Linked DNA regions of Homo sapiens. The protein of the gene in region 3 binds, or shares a complex with, the protein of the main gene of each other region. Each region holds a gene or a part of one and is shown on either strand. Other genes may lie near its edges. The genes, in order: CDKN1A, CCND1, CDK4 and CCND3. A codon is read from its position in the direction of its gene.

Region 1 (6,142 bases), on a different chromosome or scaffold from region 3:
TGTATTTTTAGTAGAGATTTCACCATGTTGGCCAGGCTGGTCTTGAACCCTTGGCCTCAAGTGATCTCCTGCCTCAGCCTCCCGAAGCACTGGGATTCTAGGTGTGAGCCACTGCGCCCGGCCCAAACAGTTTTTTTAAATAAGAGATCCAGTTGCTCCATAACCTTGCCAATGCTTGGCACTGTCAGTCTTTTTTAATCATTCTGGTAAGTGTATGGTGGTATCTTATTGTGGTATCTTAATTTGCATTTATCTGATGAATAATGATGTTAAGCTATAATATATTCTTTACAAAAAGATTACACAACAAACCAAAATATTGACATTGGTGATCTTTGCAGAGGTGTGACAGTAGTTTTTGTTTTGCTGTTGTTTTTTGCAGCAGTCTTTCTGTTTGCTAAGTTTTCTGCATTCTCTAAATTTAAATGCTTAATTTTTAAAATTATTTAATTATGAAATCCTTCCCAAAAGCCCATTTATTTGTTCTTATAAGGTATAATAACCACAATAGTAATATTACAAGTAAAGTCACTAAGAATCATTTATTGAGCACCTGCTGTATATTCAGCATTGTGGGAGGAGCTGTGAAAGACACAGAACAGTACAGGGTGTGGTCCCTGCCCTCGAGAGGTTTACAGTCTAGGTGGAGAAACGGGAACCAGGACACATGGGGAGCCGAGAGAAAACAGTCCAGGCCAGTATGTTACAGGAGCTGGAAGGTGTTTGGGGTCAGACCCCAATACTCCAAGTACACTAAGCACTTCAGTGCCTCCAGGGGCTCAACGTTAGTGCCAGGAAAGACAACTACTCCCAGCCCCATATGAGCCCACGTGGCATGCCCTGTCCATAGCCTCTACTGCCACCATCTTAAAATGTCTGACTCCTTGTTCCGCTGCTAATCAAAGTGCAATGAACTGGGGAGGGATGGGGTGGATGAGGAAGGTCGCTGGACGATTTGAGGGGCCAGTGTCTCCCTCCTAGAAAGATCTACTCCCCCATCATATACCCCTAACACAGAGATAACCCCACTCAAGGGGGCCTGTGCCACCACATGGGACCCTCACCCCCACAGCTAGAGGAGGGGGCGGTCGCTGCTTGAGCTGCCTGAGGTAGAACTAGGGTGCCCTTCTTCTTGTGTGTCCCTTCCCCTTCCAGTCCATTGAGCTGGGGGTGGGGGTGGGACAGGCACCTCAGAGCCACCTGGAGCTGAGAGGGTACTGAAGGGAAAGGACAAGGGGGAGGGACAGCAGCAGAGGGGAATTGCAGAGCCCAGCTGGAGAAAAAGGGTAGCTGGGGCTCCTCAAAAGGTACAGGGGAGCCAAAGAGGGAAAAGGCTCAACACTGAGACGGGCTCCCCAGTGCAGGTCAGAGGGGCCATGAGGGCAGGCGGGGTGGTCTGCTCCAGGACCCCACCTTCCCCCTGCCTTCACAAGACAGAGGGGGGTATCAAGAGCCAGGAGGGTACCAGGTCCCCAGCTCAGCCCTAGGCTGTGCTCACTTCAGGGTCACCCTGCCCAACCTTAGAGGAGGTGAGGGGACTCCAAAGTTTTTGATGATGCCCCCACTCGGTGAGGCCCCTTCAAAGTGCCATCTGTTTACTTCTCAAATGAAAAAGAATTCAGGTCTGAGTGTCCAGGAAAGGGGGTGAATTTCATAACCGCCTGTGACAGCGATGGGAAGGAGCCACACCCCTCCAGAGGGTACCACCCAGCGGACAAGTGGGGAGGAGGAAGTAGCTGGCATGAAGCCGGCCCACCCAACCTCCGGGAGAGAGGAAAAGGAGAACACGGGATGAGGAGGCTTTAAATAGTATTTCATAAAATAAAAATGCCCAGCACTCTTAGGAACCTCTCATTCAACCGCCTAGTTTTTGTTTAAATAATTCTAATGCCAGAGGCTGGGGGGCAGGGGGCGGCCAGGGTATGTACATGAGGAGGTGTTTAAATTAAAACACAAATAATAATTAAGACACACAAACTGAGACTAAGGCAGAAGATGTAGAGCGGGCCTTTGAGGCCCTCGCGCTTCCAGGACTGCAGGCTTCCTGTGGGCGGATTAGGGCTTCCTCTTGGAGAAGATCAGCCGGCGTTTGGAGTGGTAGAAATCTGAGGAGAGACAGCAGAAGTCAGCCAGGCCAAGAAGAAGAGGACGCGGCGGAGCTGCCCAACTGAGGAAGACAGTGGGGGGCCAGGACACCCTTCCCTGGGGCCAATGGGGCCGACTGCTGAGAACAGGAAGAACTCGGGGAACGTCCACTCTGTCTCTTGAGGGGTATTATGGAGTGTCCCACCATGCTTCACAGATGTGATTTTATCCATCACCGCACCCGCACCCATGGGTCTGCTCTAAGTCAAGCTGCCCAGCAGAGGAACCACTACTAGCTCTGTGTGCTTGTTTAAACAGACTACAATCAAATAAAATGAACAATTCAGTTCCTCAGTCACATGAGCTGTGTGTCAAATGCACAACAGCCGTATGTGGCTCGTGGCCCCTGTACCGGACACTCCCATCCCTGCAGAGTTACTGGACAGTGCTGATCTAGGGATTCTGTTACAAAATCCATGAAAGTGTTCAGCACAATGCCGGGCCCATATAAACGTCAGTAGTTGTTGTTATTATAATTAGTCTTGACCCAACGGCAAATTCACTTTGAGACCTTAGATAAATCACTCTACCTCTCTGAGCCTGGTTTCCTTGCCCTAAAAGGATGGCAAGGGGCTGGGCATGGTGGCTCACGCCTGTAATCACAACACTTTGGGAGGCTGAGGCAGGAGGACTGCTTGAGCTCAGGAGTTCAAGACCAGCCCGGGCAACATGGTGAGACCTTGTCTCTACAAAAACTCAAAAAATTAACCGGGCGTAGTGGTGTACAACTATAGTCCCAGCTTCCCAGCTACCCAGGAGGCTGAGGTAGGAAGATCGCTTGAGCCCAGGAGTTTGAAGCTGCAGTGAGCCATGATCGTATCACTGCACTCCAGTCTGGCCAACAGAGTTAAGACACCTGTCTCAAAAAGAAAGGCGGGCAGGGTGACAAGAATGTCTTATGTTATAACATTGCTATAAGGACTAAATAAATCTACCTTAGAAGCTTGGCAAAGGGCCTGGCATAATGAACATTCCCAATAAATGTTAGCTAGTTGGTCTTTGCTGCCTACTTGCTGTGTGACCTCAGGGAGGTTGCTTCCCCTCTCTGGGCCTGTTTCCTTCTACCTGGAGCATGCTGGACCAGGACCAGACAGGTCAGCCCTTGGACCATGGATTCTGAGAATCCTGGTCCCTTACAAAGTCCTTCCGTGCACATGTCCGCACCTGTCATGCTGGTCTGCCGCCGTTTTCGACCCTGAGAGTCTCCAGGTCCACCTGGGGACCCTTCAGCCTGCTCCCCTGAGCGAGGCACAAGGGTACAAGACAGTGACAGGTCCACATGGTCTTCCTCTGCTGTCCCCTGCAGCAGAGCAGGTGAGGTGCCAGGCCGCCTGCCTCCTCCCAACTCATCCCGGCCTCGCCGGGGCCCCGTGGGAAGGTAGAGCTTGGGCAGGCCAAGGCCCCGCACACGCTCCCAGGCGAAGTCACCCTCCAGTGGTGTCTCGGTGACAAAGTCGAAGTTCCATCGCTCACGGGCCTCCTGGATGCAGCCCGCCATTAGCGCATCACAGTCGCGGCTCAGCTGCTCGCTGTCCACTGGGCCGAAGAGGCGGCGGCAGGCCTTGCTGCCGCATGGGTTCTGACGGACATCCCCAGCCGGTTCTGACATGGCGCCTGCAGCAGAGATACAAGGAAGGCCCTGGTCACGGCGGAGATTAGACACTATGTTACCTGGCCGGGCTTTGCTGTGTCACCTCAGGTGACGTCTTCCTACCAGAGGGTCTCTCTCACTCCTTCCAGCTGGTCTTCCTGCTTCCTTCCCACAGGAGGCCTGACCCCCACCAGCAGAGCTCAGCCAGCCTGGCACACCAAGGTCACTGGGAGAGCAGGCAACTGAAGGGCAAGCTAATGTCAACAAAGGCAAGTCTATTGCAAGAGCAAGGACCAGGGTCCTGTTTGCCACCAGGTATTATCAGCTAAAATCAATTTGTTTTCCCCCCAGAGGTGTCCCTCATGGGTGTGAATGCCCCCCAAATATGTGTGAATTGCCAGAGTCCAGCAGTTTCCTAATCGCAGCCCTGGCCAGAAGGTCAATTCCCAAAAGAAGAAACAGTCTGACAGTTCCTCCAGCCTCCTAAGTCCCCCGACCCAGATCCCCAAGTAGGGTAACCCTGCTCTGCCAAGTAAAAGTACCCGGGACTTTGGGGCAAAAAGCACCCGGGTTGTGGTCCTAGCTCTGCCAGTTACTACGTAAGCTTTAAAAAGCCACTTAATGTCTCTAGGTCTCAGTTTCCTCATCCATAAATGGGGCCATGTACAAGTTTAAAGAGCATGGCTACAGACACATACTCAAGAAATTGATCACAGAGTCCATGCAGCAAGGCAGACAGAACAGAGCTGAATGAAAGGCTGTATCCTGGTGGTTAAGCAGGAGGGCTCTGGAGCCAGATCACCTGGGCTGGAGTCCAGGTTTTACTAGGTGACCCTGGGCAAGCAACTTAACTTGTCTGAGCTCTAGTTTCCTCATCTATAAAATGGGGATAGTAATAGTGACTGTCTCAGAGGATAGACATGAGAATTAACTGAGTTAATGTAGGTAACGTGCCAGCAGCACTTCGTATAGAGAAGTGCATTGAAAACAGAAGTATGATTATTCCTCTCTGCCTTCAGTTTTACTGAGCCTCCCCCCTATCACTTCCCCCTGCCAACTACCTCCTTCAGACAGCAGCTGACAGGTGCTGTAGGCTGAGGGCCTTTCCCAAGGATGTCGTCAGGCGGGTGGCCTAGGGGTAAGGAGGGGCCGGGCGGGGCAGCGCAAGGGATGATTTCTCCCAGGCTGAGCCACATCCTGCCAGGCACATCAGGTGATCTGAAGTCTAGACACCTGGCAGCCCCTGCCTCGTGTTGCCTGTGTCCAAGGAAACCGTTTTGCAGGCAAAAAGAAAATTAAAGGTGGCTGGTCTACCTGGCTCCTCTCCTCCCCCTTCAGGAGAGGGAAAACGGAGAGTGAGTTTGCCCATGAGGGAGCCCTGGCACCTACCTGCCTGCTCTGGCTTGACTCCAGGGCTGAGTGACTGCACGACCTTGGCAGCAACTGGATTTTCCTAGGGACAAGTCCCAACTTGCAGTTTCTGGGGGTGAAAGCTCTGCTGAGTCCTCATGAGGCAGGAAGCCCGGGACACATGCCACATCTGCTCCACCCCACCTCACCCCACTGCTTGTGATCAGTGGAGCCCACAGTTTCACGTCCCAGCTGGTTGGGAGAGGAGGCTCTTGGTAACTTCACACCAAGTTTAAAGGGCAGGAGATGGAAGAGATATGAGACTTGCCCCTGAGTCATACAGCTAAAAAGGCCAAAGGCCACTGCCCCATAAAGGGGTCACCCAGTACAGTGGACAGAGCCCTCAAATAACCTCTATCCACCCTCTGCTAGGCATGAGTTGGGATTTATTTATATATTTTTATGTTTGGGGGCTGTTCTAAGCAGTTTAAAAATATCAATCCTCCTAAAAAGTGGATATCTATTAGCTCCCTTTTTACAGAAGAGGCAACCAAGGCTCAGATAAGTTAAGTAACTTGCCTAACATCACACAGTTCATAAGTGGCACAGCCAGGATCTGAACCCAGGCCTGTTTGCCCTGAGTCCTGTGCTGTAGTATTGAACCCCACTCCCTCTCTAATTTTGAGGTTTCTTAACCAGAGAGGCCCATCACAATCACTTGGGGAGGCCAGGGGCAGTGGCTTATGCCTGTAATCCTAATACTCTGGGAGGCAGAGGTGGGAGAATCATTTGAGCCCAAGGGTCCAAGACTAGCCTGGGCAACTAGCTGAGACCCTGTCTCTACTAAAAATAAAAATAAATAAAAATTAGCTGGGTGGTTGGGTGCAGTGTCTCACACCTGTAATCCCAGCACTTTGGGAGGCCGAGGAGGGCGGAGCACGAGGTCAGGAGATTGAGACCATCCTGGCTAACACGGTGAAACCCCGTCTCTACTAAAAATACAAAAAAAAATTAGCCGGGCATGATGGCAGCACCTGTAGTCCCAGCTACTCGGGA
Region 2 (7,912 bases), on a different chromosome or scaffold from region 3:
GTTTTCCTATTTGTTAAGCACCTTCTTGCTCCGAGCTTTCCAGCCACAGTGCACTGGACGCCATCGGAAGGCTGCAGCTGCTATTTGGTGCTTTACCACCGCTGAGAAGGTGGAATGGTCACGGCCCGGTTCTGTCACTTTCTTCAGCCGGACAGTCGCCTTATTACGGATTCCAGTAGGGCCGAGCACACTCCTTCCTGCCCGTCTTTACAGATGAACATGCTATCGCTCCAGCAGTACAACCCGCCTTATTACGTAAAAAAGCAGCCCCTATCTACCCGCAGGGAAGGAGTATGTTCGGCACCACAGCTGGACTGGTGCTCGAGTTAAGCGTCCTGGGAGGTCCGCATGCGCTCCGGAACCGTAATGCGCGCTTTTTCTAAGCCTTACGGTAAACGCGGACGCAGGGCAACCACGTGGCGGTGGAACCGAGGCCCGGCGGGAATGCGCGGAATGCGCGGCGCGGCCTCGCGCGGTTCCCGAGCCACGGCCCAGGGTCCGGCGGCGCGCGCTCTCGCCTCCTCCCCTCACCTCTCCCAGCCGCACCCCGGCCCTGGCCCTGCCGCCCAGAACTCGCTGGGCAAGTCGTGCCCCGCGTGAACACACAGAAGGGGCTTGGGGACCGAGCGCGGCCCATCAGTCCCTCAGACCCTGAGGACCCAGAATTCCCTAAGGGGTCCGAATCCGAGTCCTGCCCCCAGCCCTTAAGGCACGGGCTCCAGGGACCCCAGGGGAAGGGCGCGGGGCATTAGGTACGCAACCCGTTTCCCCGCACCTGGAAAAAAACTCCCTTTCCCTCCCCTCCCCTGCTTGTTGAGTGTCCGGATAACCAGAACTCTAAGGCGCCCCGTAATAACGACCCCGCTGTCCCTCCACCCACCCCCAAGTGCCAAAGCGAGGGATGGAAGCGCTTTCAAGCGTTCCAAGGGCATTGAGGAGCGAGCTGGAGAGGCGCGGGGATGCGGGGTCCTCCCCGCAGTCTTCCGGAAAGGGCGGGGGAGGGCGCGGCAAGTTCCGGAGTGGGGCATGCCGTGGGAGCCCACGAGGGCCTCAGCGCGGATCCTCCGCCGGAAAACCGGCTCCCGCGAGCCGCCGCCGCAGGTTTCCTAGGCCCCGCGAGTCCCGCAGCGAAGCCCTGCGTCTCCGTCCGACGCGGGGGTCTGCTCAGCCTCGGGTGGGCCGCGGCCAGGCCTGACTGCGGGGGAGAGGGCCGAACGTGACCTCCGAGGTCACCCCCAGCCAGCTTTCTCTCCTGTGGTCGGAAGTGGTTTTCTTCTCGATCTGGGCGCCTACTCCCCACCACTTGGTCTGAGAGGGGCTGGGGCCGGAAGGCCAGGGAATCTCTGGTGGATTTGGGGGTTCATATTGCTCAGGGTACCAGCCGATGCGTTTTGAGGGGCGGGAGTCGAGGAATTAGAATCGCCTTTAACCCTCAAGAGTTGCGCCTTCAGCCTCGGGATCCCAGATGCGTCGTTGGAGCCAGGGCCGCCCCCCTACCTGTTGGGTTTGCGTTTTAACTCCAGCGCACACCTTGCCGGCAGCCCTCGGAGCTAGGGGAGGGGTCTCGTTTCCCCGCAGCCCGCCGGACAGACGACTGGGGCACGGGAGGGGCGGTGGCAGGGTGGTCTGTGTGTGGCTGAAACTAATTGATCTGGAGCGGAAACGCACGTCTGCGGTTGGGGCGATGGGGGGGGCGGTGCGGCTGTCCATGTGCCGAGCGTGTGGCTGTCTCGGGTGGGCACTGGGGCCGGAGTTCGCCCCGGCCCACCTCGCAGTTTTGGGGCGCCTGGGATCGGCGCTACGTAAGCGAAGCAGAGCTGCCATAGCACGTGGGCCGCCACGCGCACCCCAAAAGCAAGCAGTGTGGGGGGAAGGGGAGCTCGAGCGCCTTCGGAGCCCAGGGGCCGGCTTTCGGAAGCGTTTTCCCGGGCGACTTAAGGGCTTAACAATGGAAAACTCGCGGAGCCTGAGCCAAGTCCTTTCAAGTCGCCGCCAGGTATGCGGCTGCAGGTGACCCCACCTGGGTGCGCCCGCCCGCCAGCCGCCCTGGTGGAAAAGCGGGTGCGGGAGGTCGCTGGCGAAAGGTCGGGACTGGTCCCTGCACCACCCGCCCCCAACCCAAGCCCCGAGCCCCGCGGCGCGCAGCCGCGCTGAGTCCCGGGGTCTGCGTCGCGGCGCGCCGGTTCCTGAATGAACGCGCTCCCTTCCCCCGCCTGAATGAAGGTTCCCACAGCCAGGGACGGTGGCGAACACGCGCCTGCAGCGGAATTCGCTTTCTCCTGACCGACCATCCGCCCAGGCCGCGGTCACCGGGGCGGGGGCCAGGGGGCGAGGAAAGCGTGAAGGTGATTTCAGTTAATTTTGGATTTTCTTTCAAACAACGTGGTTACCCTCCCGACTGGGCCACTTGCCCTTTGTCTCCAAATGGTCACCAAGAAATAAGAACAGAGCACTTTAAATGAGCCCAGAATCCGCAGTTCCTGCTTCGTGGTGGGTTTTAAGAAGACAGTGTAAAGTAAAACTGCAACCGAAAAGTTTTTTAAAGTTGCTTTTCTCTTTGGAAAAAATAAAATCAAAATGCTTTCTCTGCGCTTCTTGAAGCAATGACCCTCAAAAGCCCAGAGGTATTGGCCCCCTCGGGGGACCCGGGGGCCGCCAAGCAGGGTTCCCCCAGGTGGGGGCTGGGCAGCTGGCGCTCCCCGCCGGGCCCCAAATTCCAGCGCCGGGCCCCAAATTCCAGCGCCTCCCCCGCGGGTTCCTGGACGGCTCTTTACGCTCGCTAACCGGGCTTGCAATTTTGCGCTCGTCCCTGAGCCGGGAAATCAACGAAGTTCCTAGTCGAGATCTGCCCGGTCCGCCTAGTAACAGCGCCGCGCCCCCATTGGCTCATGCTAATTCCAGTTTCCTCTGTCTTGCGCCCGGGATGGGGGGGTGAAGCTCCCTCCTGGACCCAGAGCCGGTTGTGCCGGAGTGGGCGAGCCTCTTTATGCCCTGCTGCCCCTAGCCGACTTCGGCCCGCTTCGCGCCTCGGGCTGGGCCAGGGCGCACGCGGGGCTCGGGGCCCCTCGCCCCACGGGATGGGAGAGGCCGGGTGATAGCTCCGGGCCCCATAAATCATCCAGGCGGCCGCCGGGTCGGGATTTTATGAATGAAAAAGCAGCTGGGCCGCCCTTGTGCGCGGGCTGATGCTCTGAGGCTTGGCTATGCGGGGGCCAACGCGATTGTGGGTGCTCGGGGAGTGGGGGGGGGCACGACCGTAGGTGCTCCCTGCTGGGGCAACCCATCGCTCCCCATGCGGAATCCGGGGGTAATTACCCCCCCAGGACCCGGAATATTAGTAATCCTAATTCCCGGCGGGGGAGGGGGCGCGGGAGGAATTCACCCTGAAAGGTGGGGGTGGGGGGGGTCGCATCTTGCTGTGAGCACCCTGGCGAAGGGGAGAGGGCTTTTTCTATCAGTTTTCTTTGAGCTTTTACTGTTAAGAGGGTACGGTGGTTTGATGACACTGAACTATATTCAAAAGGAAGTAAATGAACAGTTTTCTTAATTTGGGGCAGGTACTGTAAAAATAAAAACAAAAGTTAAGACAGTAAAATGTCCTTTTATTTTTTAATGCACCAAAGAGACAGAACCTGTAATTTTAAAAACTGTGTATTTTAATTTACATCTGCTTAAGTTTGCGATAATATTGGGGACCCTCTCATGTAACCACGAACACCTATCGATTTTGCTAAAAATCAGATCAGTACACTCGTTTGTTTAATTGATAATTGTTCTGAATTATGCCGGCTCCTGCCAGCCCCCTCACGCTCACGAATTCAGTCCCAGGGCAAATTCTAAAGGTGAAGGGACGTCTACACCCCCAACAAAACCAATTAGGAACCTTCGGTGGTCTTGTCCCAGGCAGAGGGGACTAATATTTCCAGCAATTTAATTTCTTTTTTAATTAAAAAAAATGAGTCAGAATGGAGATCACTGTTTCTCAGCTTTCCATTCAGAGGTGTGTTTCTCCCGGTTAAATTGCCGGCACGGGAAGGGAGGGGGTGCAGTTGGGGACCCCCGCAAGGACCGACTGGTCAAGGTAGGAAGGCAGCCCGAAGAGTCTCCAGGCTAGAAGGACAAGATGAAGGAAATGCTGGCCACCATCTTGGGCTGCTGCTGGAATTTTCGGGCATTTATTTTATTTTATTTTTTGAGCGAGCGCATGCTAAGCTGAAATCCCTTTAACTTTTAGGGTTACCCCCTTGGGCATTTGCAACGACGCCCCTGTGCGCCGGAATGAAACTTGCACAGGGGTTGTGTGCCCGGTCCTCCCCGTCCTTGCATGCTAAATTAGTTCTTGCAATTTACACGTGTTAATGAAAATGAAAGAAGATGCAGTCGCTGAGATTCTTTGGCCGTCTGTCCGCCCGTGGGTGCCCTCGTGGCGTTCTTGGAAATGCGCCCATTCTGCCGGCTTGGATATGGGGTGTCGCCGCGCCCCAGTCACCCCTTCTCGTGGTCTCCCCAGGCTGCGTGTGGCCTGCCGGCCTTCCTAGTTGTCCCCTACTGCAGAGCCACCTCCACCTCACCCCCTAAATCCCGGGGGACCCACTCGAGGCGGACGGGGCCCCCTGCACCCCTCTTCCCTGGCGGGGAGAAAGGCTGCAGCGGGGCGATTTGCATTTCTATGAAAACCGGACTACAGGGGCAACTCCGCCGCAGGGCAGGCGCGGCGCCTCAGGGATGGCTTTTGGGCTCTGCCCCTCGCTGCTCCCGGCGTTTGGCGCCCGCGCCCCCTCCCCCTGCGCCCGCCCCCGCCCCCCTCCCGCTCCCATTCTCTGCCGGGCTTTGATCTTTGCTTAACAACAGTAACGTCACACGGACTACAGGGGAGTTTTGTTGAAGTTGCAAAGTCCTGGAGCCTCCAGAGGGCTGTCGGCGCAGTAGCAGCGAGCAGCAGAGTCCGCACGCTCCGGCGAGGGGCAGAAGAGCGCGAGGGAGCGCGGGGCAGCAGAAGCGAGAGCCGAGCGCGGACCCAGCCAGGACCCACAGCCCTCCCCAGCTGCCCAGGAAGAGCCCCAGCCATGGAACACCAGCTCCTGTGCTGCGAAGTGGAAACCATCCGCCGCGCGTACCCCGATGCCAACCTCCTCAACGACCGGGTGCTGCGGGCCATGCTGAAGGCGGAGGAGACCTGCGCGCCCTCGGTGTCCTACTTCAAATGTGTGCAGAAGGAGGTCCTGCCGTCCATGCGGAAGATCGTCGCCACCTGGATGCTGGAGGTGCGGGGCTTCGGGCGGCTCTCTTAAGACTTCCCTGCAACTTGTTGCCCAGACCCACGTTTCTTTGCTACTCACCCCCCTCCCTTCTCTCCCGCTAGAACTTTGAAGTTTGCCGTGGTGTTTCTAGGGATCCGTATTTTCAAAATAAAAATTGCGGGTATTTTCTGAAGGAGGAAGGGGTGGGGGTGGGGGTGCTAGAAGTAGCGTTTCGTGGGAGGGGAGAAGGGGGTCCGGGAGGGGTGCCTTCGGGAGAAGCCAGTGCCAGGGGCACCCCAATGGGCCCGAGGGTGCGGGCTGGCAGGCTGGGTGCGCTTTGTGTCCCCCGCCTGCGCCCCAGCCCGGCTGCGCCTCAGCGGCCGGGAGCCGCCAACTCCGGGGGGAGGGGGCATAGATTTGATTTTTAAATTAATATCCATGGACACGTATGCAAGGGCCGCTCGTGCCAGTATTATGCGCCATCTTTGCTCTTTTATTGCAAAGCAAAAGTGTTTATTAATAATTGGGGGCAGGGTGGGGGCGGGGAGCGGCCGCCGGGCGCTGGGGCCGCAGCTAAGGGCCGCGCGGCTGCCGGGAGCCCGCGGGAGGGGCGCAGGGACGCGGCATGGGTAGTTTTGGGGGGACGCCGCTAGGGAAGGGGGGGCCTTTGTTCAAGCAGCGAGTCCCGGGGCGCCCCGAACGGGCAGCCTGGGCCGGAGAGCACGGCGAGCTGCAAGGTCGCGTGGCCCCCAAGACGCCAGGGCTTGATCCCCGTCTGCAGGGATATCGGCTTGGAGGACCTTCTCCGAGCGAGCCGGGGGCCTGGGAGCACATTTTCAGACCTTCGGTGGGCGCCTGAGGGGCCCGCAAGTATTTTAAAATAATTTTTGAAAGTGCGGCGTGGTGCCCTTGCGAGAGGGAAACGCCGCCCGCGCCCAGGGGGAAGGGGGGGCCCCGGAGTTTGAATTCCTGGGGCTCCCCCCGGAGCCTGTAACGAACTCCCAACCCCCGGCCTGGGTAAAGGGTCGCCCGAGGGTCATTTTCAGGGTTTTTTTATGCACTTAGTTATTTTTTTAATATTTTTAAATATTTTTTGAAAAGATGACGTCTGGGGAAATGCGGCGCGGCGGCCTGGGACGCCACCTTTGTGTCTCGCAGGCGCGGCGCCCAACCCCGCGGCCCGTTCCGCGGCCCCGCACCCCAGTTGGTGTCGACCCCCAGTCAGAGGGACCACGGAGCTCCAGGGCGGGCCAGGGTCCCGGGGGCCGGCAGCCCGCGCCGCCGCGCACGCCGCCCAGCTGTGCCCGCTCCCGCCCCCACCGTGCCAGCCTCGCGGGGACTTTCCCTTTCAGTTTCGGGGAGGGTGGGTACTGGGGACGCGCGGGGGAGGGGGCGCATCACGGGAAGCTCCTGCCGCCCCCAGCCCCGACCCCTCGGCGCCCTCCAGACCTGGCGGCCCTGCCAAGCGCGATGGGGGGTGCGGGGGCGTGCGGGGGGGCGGCGCGACCTGGCGGCGGCGGTCACGGGCCCCGTGCCTCCGTAGGTCTGCGAGGAACAGAAGTGCGAGGAGGAGGTCTTCCCGCTGGCCATGAACTACCTGGACCGCTTCCTGTCGCTGGAGCCCGTGAAAAAGAGCCGCCTGCAGCTGCTGGGGGCCACTTGCATGTTCGTGGCCTCTAAGATGAAGGAGACCATCCCCCTGACGGCCGAGAAGCTGTGCATCTACACCGACAACTCCATCCGGCCCGAGGAGCTGCTGGTAACCACTGGACCCCGCCGCCCCCCGCCCCCCGCGAGCCGCACGCAGGACCACGGGGCCGGGGAAGGTGCAGGCGGTGGCGGCCGGCCCGCCTCTGACATATCTGCTCCTCCGAGGGAGGGCGGCCCCGCCGCCGGGCGTCCCTGTCCGGGGAGCGGGCGGGATCCTAGCCGCCCTCGTCCCGCCGCCCTGTGTGCGCTTGCCTGCGACTCCCACCGCGTTCGCGCCCCGCGGTGTGGCCGAAAAGTGGGCGGCGCGCGCCCTCCAGCGGCTGCACGAGGAGCGCCGCGCTCGGCGCTGAGCCTCCAGTTCCAGGTGGTGGGAGGTCTTTTTGTTTCCACTTGCAGAGTCTTTTCACGCGGCGGGCGCCTTTTCTGTTTTGATCTGGGATTGCGTGTTGCCCCAGCTCCCTTGAGTCCCCAGCATTCGCCAGCCCTCCCCTCCAACATCCAGGACCGCACGAGACGCAGGGGCCAGTGCTCTGAGCCGGAGGTGCGGCGTGGCCCGGCCCCCGTGCTGCCGGCTTCCCCGCGCCCCCGGGCTGGCCCGCACCTCCCCTGATGGCCGCTCACCCTGTGTTCGCAGCAAATGGAGCTGCTCCTGGTGAACAAGCTCAAGTGGAACCTGGCCGCAATGACCCCGCACGATTTCATTGAACACTTCCTCTCCAAAATGCCAGAGGCGGAGGAGAACAAACAGATCATCCGCAAACACGCGCAGACCTTCGTTGCCCTCTGTGCCACAGGTAGGGCAGGCCCGGCAGCCCCCGGCCTCCCCTTGAGAGCCGGCTCCTTAGGTGACCCTGGCCGGCTTCTTGCTCTCCACCTGGGTGCTGTCTGGGAAGATGTCCCCAGACCCCCTCCTGCGCTGGAGAGCGCTCTTCCAGCTCTGGTGAGCAGAGGCCCTGGATTGT
Region 3 (7,092 bases):
GGGACAACTTTGCCCATAAAATTTTAACAAAGAATACTCTTTAGAATGAGATAGAAAGTTGCAGAATGGGAAGTGAAAAAAAGTGCCCCACGGGGAGAAATACTGAGCTAAGCAAGGGCGCTGGCTGGGCCCCTCCCTTCAAGGGGGGCACAGAAGCACTCTCCTTTCTGCCCACCTGCAAGAGAACAGGTCCCCTTAGCTTACGGAGACCCTGGGGCGAGGGAAATAGGAGAGAACAGCAGTCCCTGTTAATGGGTGAGAGGGATTTTGCGCTCTCCGGGGAGAAAGCCCCACCCCTTCCTGGGGACCCTTGACCCTCCGACACAAACAAGCGCTCCAGGAGTCCCCTGCCAGCCCCTCGGCCTCACCCCATTCCCACTCCGTGTCCTGGGGCCCGCCCAGCCTCCTTAGGCGCCGCGCCTGCTCGCGGTCTCCGCTGACACCCCAGGTGCGCGCCTCCACCCTCCGCGCCCGGCCAGGTGCCCAGGCCTGACCTGCTCCGGGCCCTGGAAGCAGATCCGGCACTGAGGGGTTCGGAGTCCGCTGTCCAGGCTACTGCTGAGCGACAGGGCGTCCAGCGCGCCCGGGGGCGGCAGCGGCGGCGCGGGCGGCGGCAGGGGTCCGGCCCGCGGCTCCTTGTCGCCGGCCAGGCCCCGGGCCCGCGGCTCCGACCCGTAGTACTCCTCCTCGTCGCCGTCGCCGTCCCGGGTGGAGCAGCCAGCGAAGGGCGCCCAGCCGCAGCCGCCTCCCCGGCCCCCCCGGGGTTGCGGCTCGGCCCGGGGCCGCCCCCCGCCTGTCAGCACCAGCAGCTTCAGCTCGTTCAGAAACATGCGGAGCCGAGACTTGAGCATCGTCCGGACACCGGGGGCGGGGGGCAGCGTGCAAGGGGGGCTCGCTAGCGGCGGGGGGAGGGGAGAGGACAAGGCCGGGAAGGGGGCGCGCGCTAGAGAGCCGAGCCGGGCCGGGGTCTTCGGGGCCTGCGACAGCCGTTCACTGCTGCCACCGCCGGGGCTCCGGTGCTTGCGGGGCCGAGCGGGCTGGCGGCCCGGGGGCGGCGGGGTGGGCGGCCATGGCCAGGGCAGGGGGCGGGGAGGGGGGCTCAGGGTGCCGCACCCCGCGGGTCTGGGTCTGGAGCGGGCCGGGCCCCCGGGGTTACGCGCCCGGGTCCTCCTGCGGCGGGGCCGCCCCCCATCGCCGTTCTCTCGGTCCCAGTCCCCCTCCGGCTCCGGGATCAGGCTTGGCTCGGCCCGTGCGCTCGGCGGTGGCAAATGGCGGCTCCTTCCGGCGGCGGCGGCGGCGGAGACCCCCCCGGAGTGGCGGGCGGGCGGGGCGGGCGCCGGGGAGCGGGTGAAGGATGGAGGGAGGGGCGGGGCGGGGAGGGGGAGAGGAGAAGGGGCCGCGGCTGCGCATCCCCGCCCTGCCCCGCACGAGCAGGTGTCCCAGGGGCGGGGGCAAGTGTGGGATCCCGAGGAGGGTGGAGGAAGGGGAGTGGCCAAGGAAGGGGAGTGTGCACACAAGTTGACTAGGTGTGTGTCTGGGAGTGGGGGATGAGCGGGTGAGCATGGAAGGTGAGTGGTTAAATGACGCAGGTGTACCAGGGAGGGTGAGGCTTGTGCAAAATGGGAATGTGCAAAGAAAGAGCTGTGCAAGTGTCGGAGGTGTGAGGGAGGTACATGGGCAGGGGTGGGACTCAAGCAATATACACTTTACCCAAAGGGCTGAAAAGTGTGATCGATGGGGACTGGGAAAGAGAGGTGTGTAAGGAATGGAATCGGATTGTCTGAGAAACAGAAGCCTGTGATTGTAATGTGTGAAGGAGGTGAGGGAGGGAGCAGGGGAGGTAGGCGTGCTAAAGGGATGGGAGTGTCTTTCCTGGTACTCTCCTGCCCTCACCTCCACTACACTGAAGTGAACAATACACACACTTACCCCTTTCCTTTTATGGAGACTTCCCTCTGAGGCCAAGTTCTACCCCCATCACATTTTTTTCTTTCTTACACTTACATTCTCCCTCTCCTCCCCTTTGCAAAGCTGAGGGAAAAGGGATTCCAGGGGAGCTCATTGGGTCAAACATACTGGGAAAAAATTTAATTAGTGAAAGAGTAATTAACAGAAGAAGGGAGGGGACAGAGCCTGGGACAGACTGCCAAATTAAGGTTCCTCAATAGAAAGTGATGGAGAGACAGTAATGTTCCCATGAAGTATTCAAATGTTTTGGATGGACTAATGAATGAATCAGAAAAAGGGGCTGGGACCCAAGCAGACAGAGAGGACGTCTTCTGTTGCAAAGACAGTAAGCTGTGAAGGTCTTATGTGGAAGGTGAGGCTGAAGTGGGGAATGCTGGTGTGGGAAGGGAGTTTGAAAAACTCACAGACAATTATCTTAGCCTTCCAGAAGGCTTACAAAGCACCCACCCCTAGCAAGGTAGCCAATAAAACATTCACCTCTTGAGCCCCTTAGTCAGTTCAGTCCTTGAGGTTTTTCTTACTAGTGTTCCAGCTGCCCTTGCCAGGAGGGGCCCAGGGCTACAAGTATCAGGATGGAAAGAGGAGGCATCTGTATTAATATGTATTCTATTTTGCTCTAAGTCATGGTTTATATTCATCTTCTAGTTTGAACTCTTATATTCTCAGCCAGATGGTTAAGGAAAACAGAAGTTAGAGTGGAAGGAGTGGCAAATAGGGTAATAAAATGGCTTTAGATTTTAGACAAATTCTCACAAATGAGACACTAACCGCTTTCCTCCTTTACTCCCATACCCCCAAAGGGCTGGGAGATAAAGACCTTGGAGCCAATAAAACAAAGTAGGAGAAATCTACTTGTGTCTACCTAGGTGTCTGGGCAGAGGCCATTTGGGAACAAGTGTGTTCTGGACAGTGCTAAGTGCTAAGAAAGCGGCACTAGGGAAAAAGAGGGAAGCACAATAACTCCAAATGAGTAGTCACAAGGTTTGCAGAAGGGGGCATGTCATTTTCATTCATTGTGGTGGTCTGGAGGGTGCAGGGGGTGTGGTGGTAACTTTCTTGCACATGTGCAATCCTGTATCCGTCTTATATATGATGTGATAAATAATATCATATACATACATATATACATAGAAGCATATATGCACACATACAAATATCACATAATCATAGAACCTTCCTACTGGAAAAAAAAAAAAAACTTAAAAGGTCAAGTATTCCTGTCTCCTGCTCATCAATAACTTCTCTGCCAGATGGCCTCAGGTCTTTGCATTAACACTCCCAGGGAGGTTTGGAAGTTGGAAAAGTGAGAGGATTACCTTGTCACTGAGCCTGTTGGATTACTGTATTAATCTGCCTTCCGTCATCCTTTAATCGTAGTTTTGCCCTCAAATGGGCATTGTTTACTCCCTATTGTAGAAGACCCCATTGTTGGCTACATCTTTATAGATAGTCGTACCACTACTTTAAAGGGCCAGTGACAGACACCAAAAACAAAATAAAAACCCACATACACACTGGAAGCAAGCACTCAGTAAAATGTTGTAGAATTAATGAATGAAACAATGACACAAATGAGAGTATGTTTTCTCATGGTGGAGCGAAAAGGTGACAGCATCACCTCTGGTACCCCAACTCCCACCCCCTCCCCAATGCAGACAGGCTGAAAGACCGGTAGTGAGACTGGAGTTCAGCCTTCAGACCGGTAGTGAGACAATCCTTCAGCCGGGAGTTGGGCTCTGGGTGGCCTAGGTTGCCATGGCACCGCCTCGGGCTCCACCCTCTCTTGTCCCCCTCACCGCTCCCCCCCTGCAGCGGGGGTTGTGGCAGCCAGTCACGTGCCCGCCGCGTAGCCACACCTCTGCTCCTCAGAGCAATGTCAAGCGGTCACGTGTGATAGCAACAGATCACGTGGCTGCCATCGCCCCTCCGCCCCCTTACACTCTTCGCCCTCCTCCCAGTCGAAGCACCTCCTGTCCGCCCCTCAGCGCATGGGTGGCGGTCACGTGCCCAGAACGTCCGGCGTTCGCCCCGCCCTCCCAGTTTCCGCGCGCCTCTTTGGCAGCTGGTCACATGGTGAGGGTGGGGGTGAGGGGGCCTCTCTAGCTTGCGGCCTGTGTCTATGGTCGGGCCCTCTGCGTCCAGCTGCTCCGGACCGAGCTCGGGTGTATGGGGCCGTAGGAACCGGCTCCGGGGCCCCGATAACGGGCCGCCCCCACAGCACCCCGGGCTGGCGTGAGGTAAGTGCAGTCCCTTCCCAGGAATGAGAACCAGTGCCCGCCCCCCTCACAGCTTTCCACGCGTTCGTTTCGCGAGCTGGTTATGGAAGGGTCGCTCAAGGGCGGGAAGTGGGGCCTTTGTGGTCATGGGAAAGTATAATTTTAGGGACTGAGGTGTAGGATCTTCGATGCAAGGCATGTGTCATGTGTGATCTTTGTGCGGGGCGCGATTGTCCCAAAGGAAAAAGCGTTTTCTATTGCAGGGCCTCACGTGGCTGGAGGGGTTGGTATTGAGTCATTGTGTTATCTCTGGGGCCGGCCCCAAGGAAGACTGGGAGCGGGGGATGGGATGCTGGTGGTGTTCTTTGCGCTTTTTTTTTGGGAGTCCCTTTGTTGCTGCAGGCTCATACCATCCTAACTCTGTAAGCGACTTTTGGTGATAGGAGTCTGTGATTGTAGGGTCTCCCTTGATCTGAGAATGGCTACCTCTCGATATGAGCCAGTGGCTGAAATTGGTGTCGGTGCCTATGGGACAGTGTACAAGGCCCGTGATCCCCACAGTGGCCACTTTGTGGCCCTCAAGAGTGTGAGAGTCCCCAATGGAGGAGGAGGTGGAGGAGGCCTTCCCATCAGCACAGTTCGTGAGGTGGCTTTACTGAGGCGACTGGAGGCTTTTGAGCATCCCAATGTTGTCCGGTGAGAAGGTGGTGGAGGGTTGGGCGTGGGGAGTAAAGGGAAAAGACAGCCTATAGGTGGGGTGTGATGATCTGTAGAGAAGTGGGGACCCTGAGGAAATAATGAGAGGCCATGTTGGGTTAAAGGGGATTGAAAAGTGAGCATTTACTCTGGTCAGGCTGATGGACGTCTGTGCCACATCCCGAACTGACCGGGAGATCAAGGTAACCCTGGTGTTTGAGCATGTAGACCAGGACCTAAGGACATATCTGGACAAGGCACCCCCACCAGGCTTGCCAGCCGAAACGATCAAGGTGAGTGGGGTTGGTAGGCATTGAGAGGTGGATTGGGACCTTTGTAGTAGAACCTTCTGGGATTTCAGGTATGGTGCCTAGTTTCCAGTGCATCTGTACCTCCCCTTTGAAACTAGGATCTGATGCGCCAGTTTCTAAGAGGCCTAGATTTCCTTCATGCCAATTGCATCGTTCACCGAGATCTGAAGCCAGAGAACATTCTGGTGACAAGTGGTGGAACAGTCAAGCTGGCTGACTTTGGCCTGGCCAGAATCTACAGCTACCAGATGGCACTTACACCCGTGGTCAGTAGAAAGATGGTACCAAAATGGGTTCTGGTTGGGAGTAGGAGAGTGATTGCCCGTAGCAATTGAGAAGTCATGTGCTTCATGTGTTCAGTCAAGCAAGTTGTGTTTCATGGTAACCCATGGGGTCCCCATCCATTCTTCCTATTCCCTTTAGGTTGTTACACTCTGGTACCGAGCTCCCGAAGTTCTTCTGCAGTCCACATATGCAACACCTGTGGACATGTGGAGTGTTGGCTGTATCTTTGCAGAGATGTTTCGTCGAAAGTATGGGACCCACATACCCTGGACTACCTTGAATTCCCCAAATCGCTTGTTCATAAACCACATCCATACCTTGCCCATTCTTTTTTTTTGAGACCAGGGCTTGCTGTGTTGCCCAGGCTGGATTGCAATGGCATGATCACAGCTCACTGCAGCTTCAACCTCCTGGGCTCAAGTGATCCTCCCATCTCAGCTTCCCAACTAGCTGACACTACAGGCACGCACCTCCATGCTTGGCTAGTTTGTTAATATTTTTATAGAGATGGGGTCTCAGTATATTGCCCAGGCTGGTCTTGAACTCTTGCACTCAAGCAATCCTCCCACCCCTACCTCCCAAAGTAGCATAAGCTACTGCATCTGGCCCCATTCTTTTACTTGCGTACTACTAACTTGCCCATAGCAGAAAGCTCTGAAATGTTCTGGAATTAGGAACTTCATATCCCTTTATTCTCTTTATTTTTTATTTATTTATTTATTTATTTATTTATTTATTTATTTATTTATTGAGATAAGGTTTCACTCTGTCACCCAGGCTGGAGTGCAGTGGCCCAATTACAGCTCACTGTAGCCTCTACCTCCTGGGCTAAAGCAATCCTCCCATCTCAGCCTCTTGAGTAGCTGAGACTACAGGTGCACGCCACCATGACTGGCTTTTTTTTTTTTTAGATGGAGTCTTGCTCTGTCGCCAGGCTGGAGTGCAGTAGTGCGATCTCTGCTCACTGCAACCTCCACCTCCCAGATTCAAGCAATTCTCTTGACTCAGCCTCCCAAGTAGCTGGGACCACAGGTGCACGCCACCATGCTCAGCTAATTTTTGTACTTTTAGTAATGACAGGGTTTCACCATGTTGGCCAGGATGGTCTCGATCTCTTGACCTCATGATCCACCCACATCAGACTCCCAAAGTGCTAGGATTACAGGCGTGAGCCGCTGCACCTGGCATTTCTTTTTTTTTAAAAAAAGAGACAAGGTCTTGCTTGCCCAGGCTGATCTAGAACTCCTGGGCTCAAGCAGTCCTCTCACCTCAGCATCCCAAAGTGCTGGAATTGTTGGCCTTTATTCCCTATACTTCCTATTTTGAGCCACTAAGCAGTAACCATTCAACTAAGATATCTTTGAAAATGACTGCTACCTTATATCCCTTCTCACCTTAGGCCTCTCTTCTGTGGAAACTCTGAAGCCGACCAGTTGGGCAAAATCTTTGAGTAAGTGACCAACATGGGAGAAAAAGATTTTCTATTCTGAGTCCTCTTTCTGCTGAACCCAGGATGGCAACTGGCTCTGCCCATGGGGATGGGAACTGGAGGACCCTCCTGACCAGAGTTCTCCTGTCCCCCACAGCCTGATTGGGCTGCCTCCAGAGGATGACTG
Region 4 (4,380 bases), on a different chromosome or scaffold from region 3:
ATCTAGCTGAACCAAGCCTAAGTAGTACACAAAACTCACACCTAAACATGTACCAGCTACCTCACTCATCTCCCCACCTGTGTTGAGCAACCCTTCCGACGTCCACTTCCAAAAGCAAAGTGCATGTCTTCAAGATAAAAGGCCATATTTATTGTGATATAATTTCTCAACCATTTGACATATGTAAAAACCAAGCTATCCTTTTTTTTTAAATGTGTCACTCATTTGAGTGTTGTGCTTCAAGCCCCATTTTTCCCATGAGACCTGTGGTCTTTATTGTGCAATTTTGCATGGCATAGTGATTTTTAGGAACGCATAGGTCACATTATAAAGCAGAACTGACTATATTTGGGTCAGAGACCATGTACCCCACAAAGCCTAAATATCCAGCCCTTTACAGAAAAGGCTCAATGATCCCTGCTTTAGACCATTGACTTCCACCTCCTTACCTCATACAGTGCAGAAATAGACTTACCCACACACCAATCCAAGAAGCCAAAGCCAGTTTTATTTCACAATCATCTTTATTACAGTAGGATGATGGTCCTGGGCCACCAGCCTAAACCTTGCAGCCTTAGGAAAGACCTGTGTCAACAGGGCTTGCCTCCCTCTCTAGACAGGGGCTCAGCCACCTCCAGGGCATCCCTGCTGCATTTTCCCTGCTGGAGGATGGGGCAGAGGGACAATGGGAGAGGAGGGCATGACCCCACCCCAGGCTATAGCAGCTCCTTGGCCACAAAGATCCTTTTGCCAGTAGCAGAAGGGAGGAAAACAGCAACCACCAGGGTTACCACCACTTGTGGGATGGCCAGGACCCCATTATGTCCTCTTAAAGTTGTGCTCAAAGCAATTAATAAATTAAAATGAGCCTTCAGCAGCAAAGCTGTCAATCACACAGGAGAAGCTGAGCAGAAAGCAAAGCAAAGAGGAATTTATAGCTTCTCTGGCTGAGGCCTAGGCCCCTCCCTCTAGGAGCAGCTGTCAGCACGGACTACATAGGGGCCTCCAAAGTACTGAGAGGAGCCATCTAGACTATTCCCCCTCATATGTGTCTATCATGCATTAAATTTTAGAGGGACCCCAATCCAAATGCAATAACCCTAGAAGGGACAACACCTTTAGAAGGCACTAGAGCATTTTGGCAGTTGAAAACATGAGAGCCCCCAGGGGTGGGGGGGGGCGTTCAAAAGGAATGCTGGTGTATGTATCCAATTCTGTCCCATCAGCCTGGCCCACCCCCAGCTAGAGTTGGGAAAGGCGCTGCTGGTCAGATGCAGGGAGGAGGAGCTTGACTAGCCACCGAAATGCAGACATGGCTGGCCGGGCCCCTTAGTGCACACTGCGGGGATGGGTAGGACCAGATCCCTTGGGCTTTGTGAAGGGGGAACAGACGCCCCTTCAGGCTTAGATGTGGTGTGGTTCCTGGAGGCAGGGAGGTGGGTGGCAGCGGCCCCTCCTCTGCTTAGTGGCCACTCCAGAGGGCCTCTCCAGGGCTACAGGTGTATGGCTGTGACATCTGTAGGAGTGCTGGTCTGGCTGGGCCCTTGGCTGCTGGAGCCCCGGGGGGCTTTGGGCGCTGGGCTGGAGCTGGTCTGAGAGGCTTCCCTGAGGCTCTCCCTGAGTGCAGCTTCGATCTGCTCCTGACAGGCCCGCAGGCAGTCCTGGGAACATGGGAGAAGAGTGAGGAGCAAACACTCCCCCCATAGCATCTGGCAGCAGGTGCAGGGGAAGGACAGCTCCCAACACATGGGGAAGTCTGGGGAGGTTAGGCCACAGCCCGGCCCCAGGAATCGCTCTTTAGTTCTCAGAAACTAGCAAGAGGATGTGGCAAGGGAGTGTGAGAGCAGCCCTGCATCTGACACCAAACCCCCCACCCCCACTCCAGCACACCACTTGGCAAGAAAAGAACCCCTAGGGCCAGTGCCCTTCACCCCACCCAAGATACTTGCTCTTCCCCAGACCAAGGCAGGAGATAAAAAGCCACAAAGCCCCAAGGTTGTGAAACCAGGACTTGGGACCAGGTTGGGGTTGGAGGTTTCCCTCTACTGGAGGCTCAGGGCATAGCACTACTTTATGAATGGAGAGGCTGCTGCCCAGCTACCCAGCACTCACCACTTCAGTGCCAGTGATCCCTGCCAGCAGCTCTGTGAGCTCATCCCCGGACATGGAGCAGGCACCCAGGCCTTGCACTGCAGCCCCAATGCTGCCCGTGGCGATCATGGATGGCGGGTACATGGCAAAGGTATAATCTTGGAGAGGAGGAAAGGGAACCATGAGAGAAGGAAACCTGAAGGATAACGGCCAGCATGGACTTCCGACTCCTTGGAAAGTGCCAGGCAGCATGAGTAGAGCAGAGGACATGCTGGAAAACTCCAGCAGTGGGTGGGGCAAGATATCAGCAAGGGAGGAAGACAGGAAAGAGTATCTTTCCTAGAGATCAGAACCAACTGCCAGTTTCCATAGGTCCCGGGAATAGACAAGACACTCCCTAGTATGGGAACACAACTAGGGCCAAGAGACTGGGGTTCTGTTCCCAACCTGTTCACTGTGAGACCTTGGGCAAGTCACTTCTCTCTATACCCTCAGTGTCCCCACTACAAACTGGAGGGGTCTGAGATCCCATATAGCTGATTATAACCTGCTTTTCTGCATTGAGACTGGGGGCTCAGAGGGGGTATAATTTTCACAAAGGAATTTTGACAGTATAAACCAGAATCTTCAGTTACCTCTCACCCTTATAAGTCTTCTGATTTTTCCAATTTGGCAAAAATGTGCATAGGGCTCTTACCTGTAGCACAGAGGGCCAAAAAGGTCTGGGCATGCTTTTTGACCAAGGCCTGTCGGTCACGGGGCAGAGAGAGCCGGTGCAGAATGAAGGCCAGGAAATCATGTGCAATCACAGCAGCCAGGTCCCACTTGAGCTTCCCTAGGACCAGCACCTCCCAGTCCTGAAAAAGCGGGGAAAGGGTGGGGTCAGTGGCTGGAGAAGTGAAGAGGAGGGAGCAAAGCAGAAGTCTCAAAGTCTCAGGCAGGGAAGCCCATCAAACTTTTAAAGCCCAAGACCCCAGTTCTGTTTCTGATTTTAAGGCCGGGCACCATGGAGTTCAAGGCAGGGAAGAGGAGGAGGCATGTGCTTTGAGCACTTACTGATCATTTACTAGGTGCCAGGACAACATGCTTTACATGGATTATCCCTTTTAATCCTGTCTGGTTATGTTTAAGGGGCCAATAATCCAGGCCTTCTCCTGACTTCATTCAGGGCTCTGAGGATTTCTCCAGCCAGGGCTGAAAGACGGAAGCAGCAGATACCACAGCATCACCATGAACTGGGCTCTCTTCTGGGATGAAGCAGAAAGACTCTCTCAACCCCAAGGATTTGTGAAAGGGGAGATCACCACTAGCTTCCCCTGCAACTCTGCATCCCAGCCAAGTCCACACTTCTTGAATCAACAGAAGGGAGTATGACTCCTCCAATGACAGCCACAGAGCCTTTTCTCAGGTTCCTCAAAGGGGAGATTGCCCAACCCAAGCCACATCCCCTTGGTAGGATATCAGGGATGGGTCCTGAGGTATAGCACCCCACCCCACCCCCTTTAGCTGGAACCCGTAGTGCCCCATGCCACTTGACTTTCAGGAGGATAGGTAGAGGCCAAGCCAGACAGGATGGCTCCAAATGATTCCAGAGGGATCAAGCCCTATCCTCACCTACCCAAGCCTACCTGCCAGTACTAGGTCTCGGGAGAAGGCTGGGAGCTCCACCCCAGTCCACTCGTCATGGGTTCCCAGACCTGGCCCCATTTCTGAGTTGCACACATGAGGATTTCTTCATTGTTTTATCTCAGGAAGGAACTTGTGGGTTTGACTCCTTATTGAGGCAGAAATGGCAACCCCACCCAACCTCTTCCAGGCCCCAGCCACAGCTGTCTCTCTCTTGGCCCCAGCTTAGGTGTCAGCCTCTCAAATCAACCCCTACCCTCACAGAGCCCCAGAGAAAATAGCCTGGCCTGGAGCCAGAAGTGAGACAGATAAATTACAACGCTACCCCTAGTGCATGTCCCAGGAGCCAACTCCTAACTCAGCAGTAAACAGAAGGGACTCAGCTTCTAAGGAAGCATCTGGAAGGCAACTGGGAGTGGGACTCTCCCTATGGGGAGGCAAGGGGTTGTGTTTGAGGGAAAGTGGCCACCTTTCCCCATATCCAGGCAACCAGAGAATCCCAGTGTTAACTGGTGGAGAACACACCCCTGGGAGTGCTTAGCTTCAGTAGGTGGCAGCGGCCATCACATTCCTGACTTTTAAGGCAACCTGGTCTAGCTAGAAGACCCAGGTTCTACACTCATCTGCTCAGTGCGATGCTGAGGCAGGACCTTGCCCTCCTTC

The links.
Region 1: the proteins of CDK4 (region 3) and CDKN1A are in contact, whole or in part, in a crystal structure (PDB 6P8H), measured with the Homo sapiens proteins. Residues at the interface, in NP_000066.1 of Homo sapiens: Gly18 (codon at 4,714), Thr19 (codon at 4,717), Val20 (codon at 4,720), Tyr21 (codon at 4,723), Lys22 (codon at 4,726), Ala23 (codon at 4,729), Asp25 (codon at 4,735), Val32 (codon at 4,756), Leu34 (codon at 4,762), Ser36 (codon at 4,768), Met75 (codon at 5,042), Asp76 (codon at 5,045), Cys78 (codon at 5,051), Ala79 (codon at 5,054), Thr80 (codon at 5,057), Lys88 (codon at 5,081), Thr90 (codon at 5,087), Val92 (codon at 5,093); in NP_000380.1 of Homo sapiens: Met38 (codon at 3,643), Cys41 (codon at 3,634), Ile42 (codon at 3,631), Ala45 (codon at 3,622), Arg48 (codon at 3,613), Trp49 (codon at 3,610), Phe51 (codon at 3,604), Phe53 (codon at 3,598), Val54 (codon at 3,595), Glu56 (codon at 3,589), Asp62 (codon at 3,571), Phe63 (codon at 3,568), Ala64 (codon at 3,565), Trp65 (codon at 3,562), Glu66 (codon at 3,559), Arg67 (codon at 3,556).
Region 2: the proteins of CDK4 (region 3) and CCND1 are in contact, whole or in part, in a crystal structure (PDB 2W96), measured with the Homo sapiens proteins. Residues at the interface, in NP_000066.1 of Homo sapiens: Gly45 (codon at 4,795), Gly48 (codon at 4,804), Leu49 (codon at 4,807), Ile51 (codon at 4,813), Thr53 (codon at 4,819), Val54 (codon at 4,822), Arg55 (codon at 4,825), Val57 (codon at 4,831), Ala58 (codon at 4,834), Leu59 (codon at 4,837), Arg61 (codon at 4,843), Arg62 (codon at 4,846), Ala65 (codon at 4,855), Phe66 (codon at 4,858), Asp76 (codon at 5,045), Val77 (codon at 5,048), Cys78 (codon at 5,051), Ala79 (codon at 5,054), Arg82 (codon at 5,063), Ile87 (codon at 5,078), Val89 (codon at 5,084), Asp129 (codon at 5,320), His132 (codon at 5,329), Ala133 (codon at 5,332), Asn134 (codon at 5,335), Cys135 (codon at 5,338), Ser285, Phe287, Arg288; in NP_444284.1 of Homo sapiens: Leu6 (codon at 5,082), Cys7 (codon at 5,085), Cys8 (codon at 5,088), Glu9 (codon at 5,091), Val10 (codon at 5,094), Thr12 (codon at 5,100), Ile13 (codon at 5,103), Ala30 (codon at 5,154), Lys33 (codon at 5,163), Ala34 (codon at 5,166), Thr37 (codon at 5,175), Phe108 (codon at 6,907), Lys112 (codon at 6,919), Met113 (codon at 6,922), Glu115 (codon at 6,928), Pro118 (codon at 6,937), Leu119 (codon at 6,940), Thr120 (codon at 6,943), Ala121 (codon at 6,946), Leu138 (codon at 6,997), Gln139 (codon at 7,585), Glu141 (codon at 7,591), Leu142 (codon at 7,594), Val145 (codon at 7,603), Asn146 (codon at 7,606), Lys149 (codon at 7,615), Trp150 (codon at 7,618), Asn151 (codon at 7,621), Leu152 (codon at 7,624), Ala153 (codon at 7,627).
Region 4: the proteins of CDK4 (region 3) and CCND3 are in contact, whole or in part, in a crystal structure (PDB 7SJ3), measured with the Homo sapiens proteins. Residues at the interface, in NP_000066.1 of Homo sapiens: Gly46 (codon at 4,798), Gly47 (codon at 4,801), Gly48 (codon at 4,804), Leu49 (codon at 4,807), Ile51 (codon at 4,813), Thr53 (codon at 4,819), Val54 (codon at 4,822), Arg55 (codon at 4,825), Val57 (codon at 4,831), Ala58 (codon at 4,834), Leu59 (codon at 4,837), Arg61 (codon at 4,843), Arg62 (codon at 4,846), Glu64 (codon at 4,852), Ala65 (codon at 4,855), Phe66 (codon at 4,858), Val77 (codon at 5,048), Ala79 (codon at 5,054), Val89 (codon at 5,084), Asp129 (codon at 5,320), His132 (codon at 5,329), Ala133 (codon at 5,332), Asn134 (codon at 5,335), Cys135 (codon at 5,338), Arg163 (codon at 5,422), Ile164 (codon at 5,425), Tyr165 (codon at 5,428), Ser166 (codon at 5,431), Tyr167 (codon at 5,434), Gln168 (codon at 5,437); in NP_001751.1 of Homo sapiens: His11, Pro13, Arg14, Ala15, Gly16, Pro17, Asp18, Arg20, Leu21, Arg26, Val27, Ser30, Leu31, Arg33, Leu34, Arg37, Tyr38, Glu74, Lys112, Leu113, Arg114, Glu115, Thr116, Pro118, Ile121, Glu122, Pro134, Arg138, Glu141 (codon at 2,942), Val142 (codon at 2,939).

The regions. Positions count from the first base shown.
Region 1 is NC_000006.12:36,681,714-36,687,855, reverse strand, and holds the end of CDKN1A (cyclin-dependent kinase inhibitor 1), read right to left. Parts: intron 3,760-6,142; coding exon of another isoform or gene 3,755-3,759; coding exon 3,310-3,754; coding exon of another isoform or gene 3,211-3,309; intron 2,405-3,210; coding exon of another isoform or gene 2,346-2,404; exon of another isoform or gene 2,106-2,345; coding exon 2,056-2,105; 3' UTR 524-2,055; downstream 1-523. UniProt on the Homo sapiens protein: Plays an important role in controlling cell cycle progression and DNA damage-induced G2 arrest. Involved in p53/TP53 mediated inhibition of cellular proliferation in response to DNA damage.
Region 2 is NC_000011.10:69,636,248-69,644,159, forward strand, and holds the start of CCND1 (G1/S-specific cyclin-D1), read left to right. Parts: upstream 1-4,908; 5' UTR 4,909-5,066; coding exon 5,067-5,264; intron 5,265-6,783; coding exon 6,784-6,999; intron 7,000-7,584; coding exon 7,585-7,744; intron 7,745-7,912. UniProt on the Homo sapiens protein: Regulatory component of the cyclin D1-CDK4 (DC) complex that phosphorylates and inhibits members of the retinoblastoma (RB) protein family including RB1 and regulates the cell-cycle during G(1)/S transition.
Region 3 is NC_000012.12:57,749,288-57,756,379, reverse strand, and holds the start of CDK4 (cyclin-dependent kinase 4), read left to right. Parts: upstream 1-4,069; 5' UTR 4,070-4,205; intron 4,206-4,643; 5' UTR 4,644-4,662; coding exon 4,663-4,880; intron 4,881-5,037; coding exon 5,038-5,173; intron 5,174-5,289; coding exon 5,290-5,457; intron 5,458-5,614; coding exon 5,615-5,724; intron 5,725-6,160; exon of another isoform or gene 6,161-6,875; coding exon 6,876-6,926; exon of another isoform or gene 6,927-7,062; coding exon 7,063-7,092. Other genes in the region: E3 ubiquitin-protein ligase MARCHF9, read right to left, coding at 495-851.
Region 4 is NC_000006.12:41,934,447-41,938,826, forward strand, and holds the end of CCND3 (G1/S-specific cyclin-D3), read right to left. Parts: exon of another isoform or gene 3,720-4,380; intron 2,949-3,719; coding exon 2,789-2,948; intron 2,250-2,788; coding exon 2,113-2,249; intron 1,662-2,112; coding exon 1,494-1,661; coding exon of another isoform or gene 1,405-1,493; 3' UTR 506-1,404; downstream 1-505. UniProt on the Homo sapiens protein: Regulatory component of the cyclin D3-CDK4 (DC) complex that phosphorylates and inhibits members of the retinoblastoma (RB) protein family including RB1 and regulates the cell-cycle during G(1)/S transition.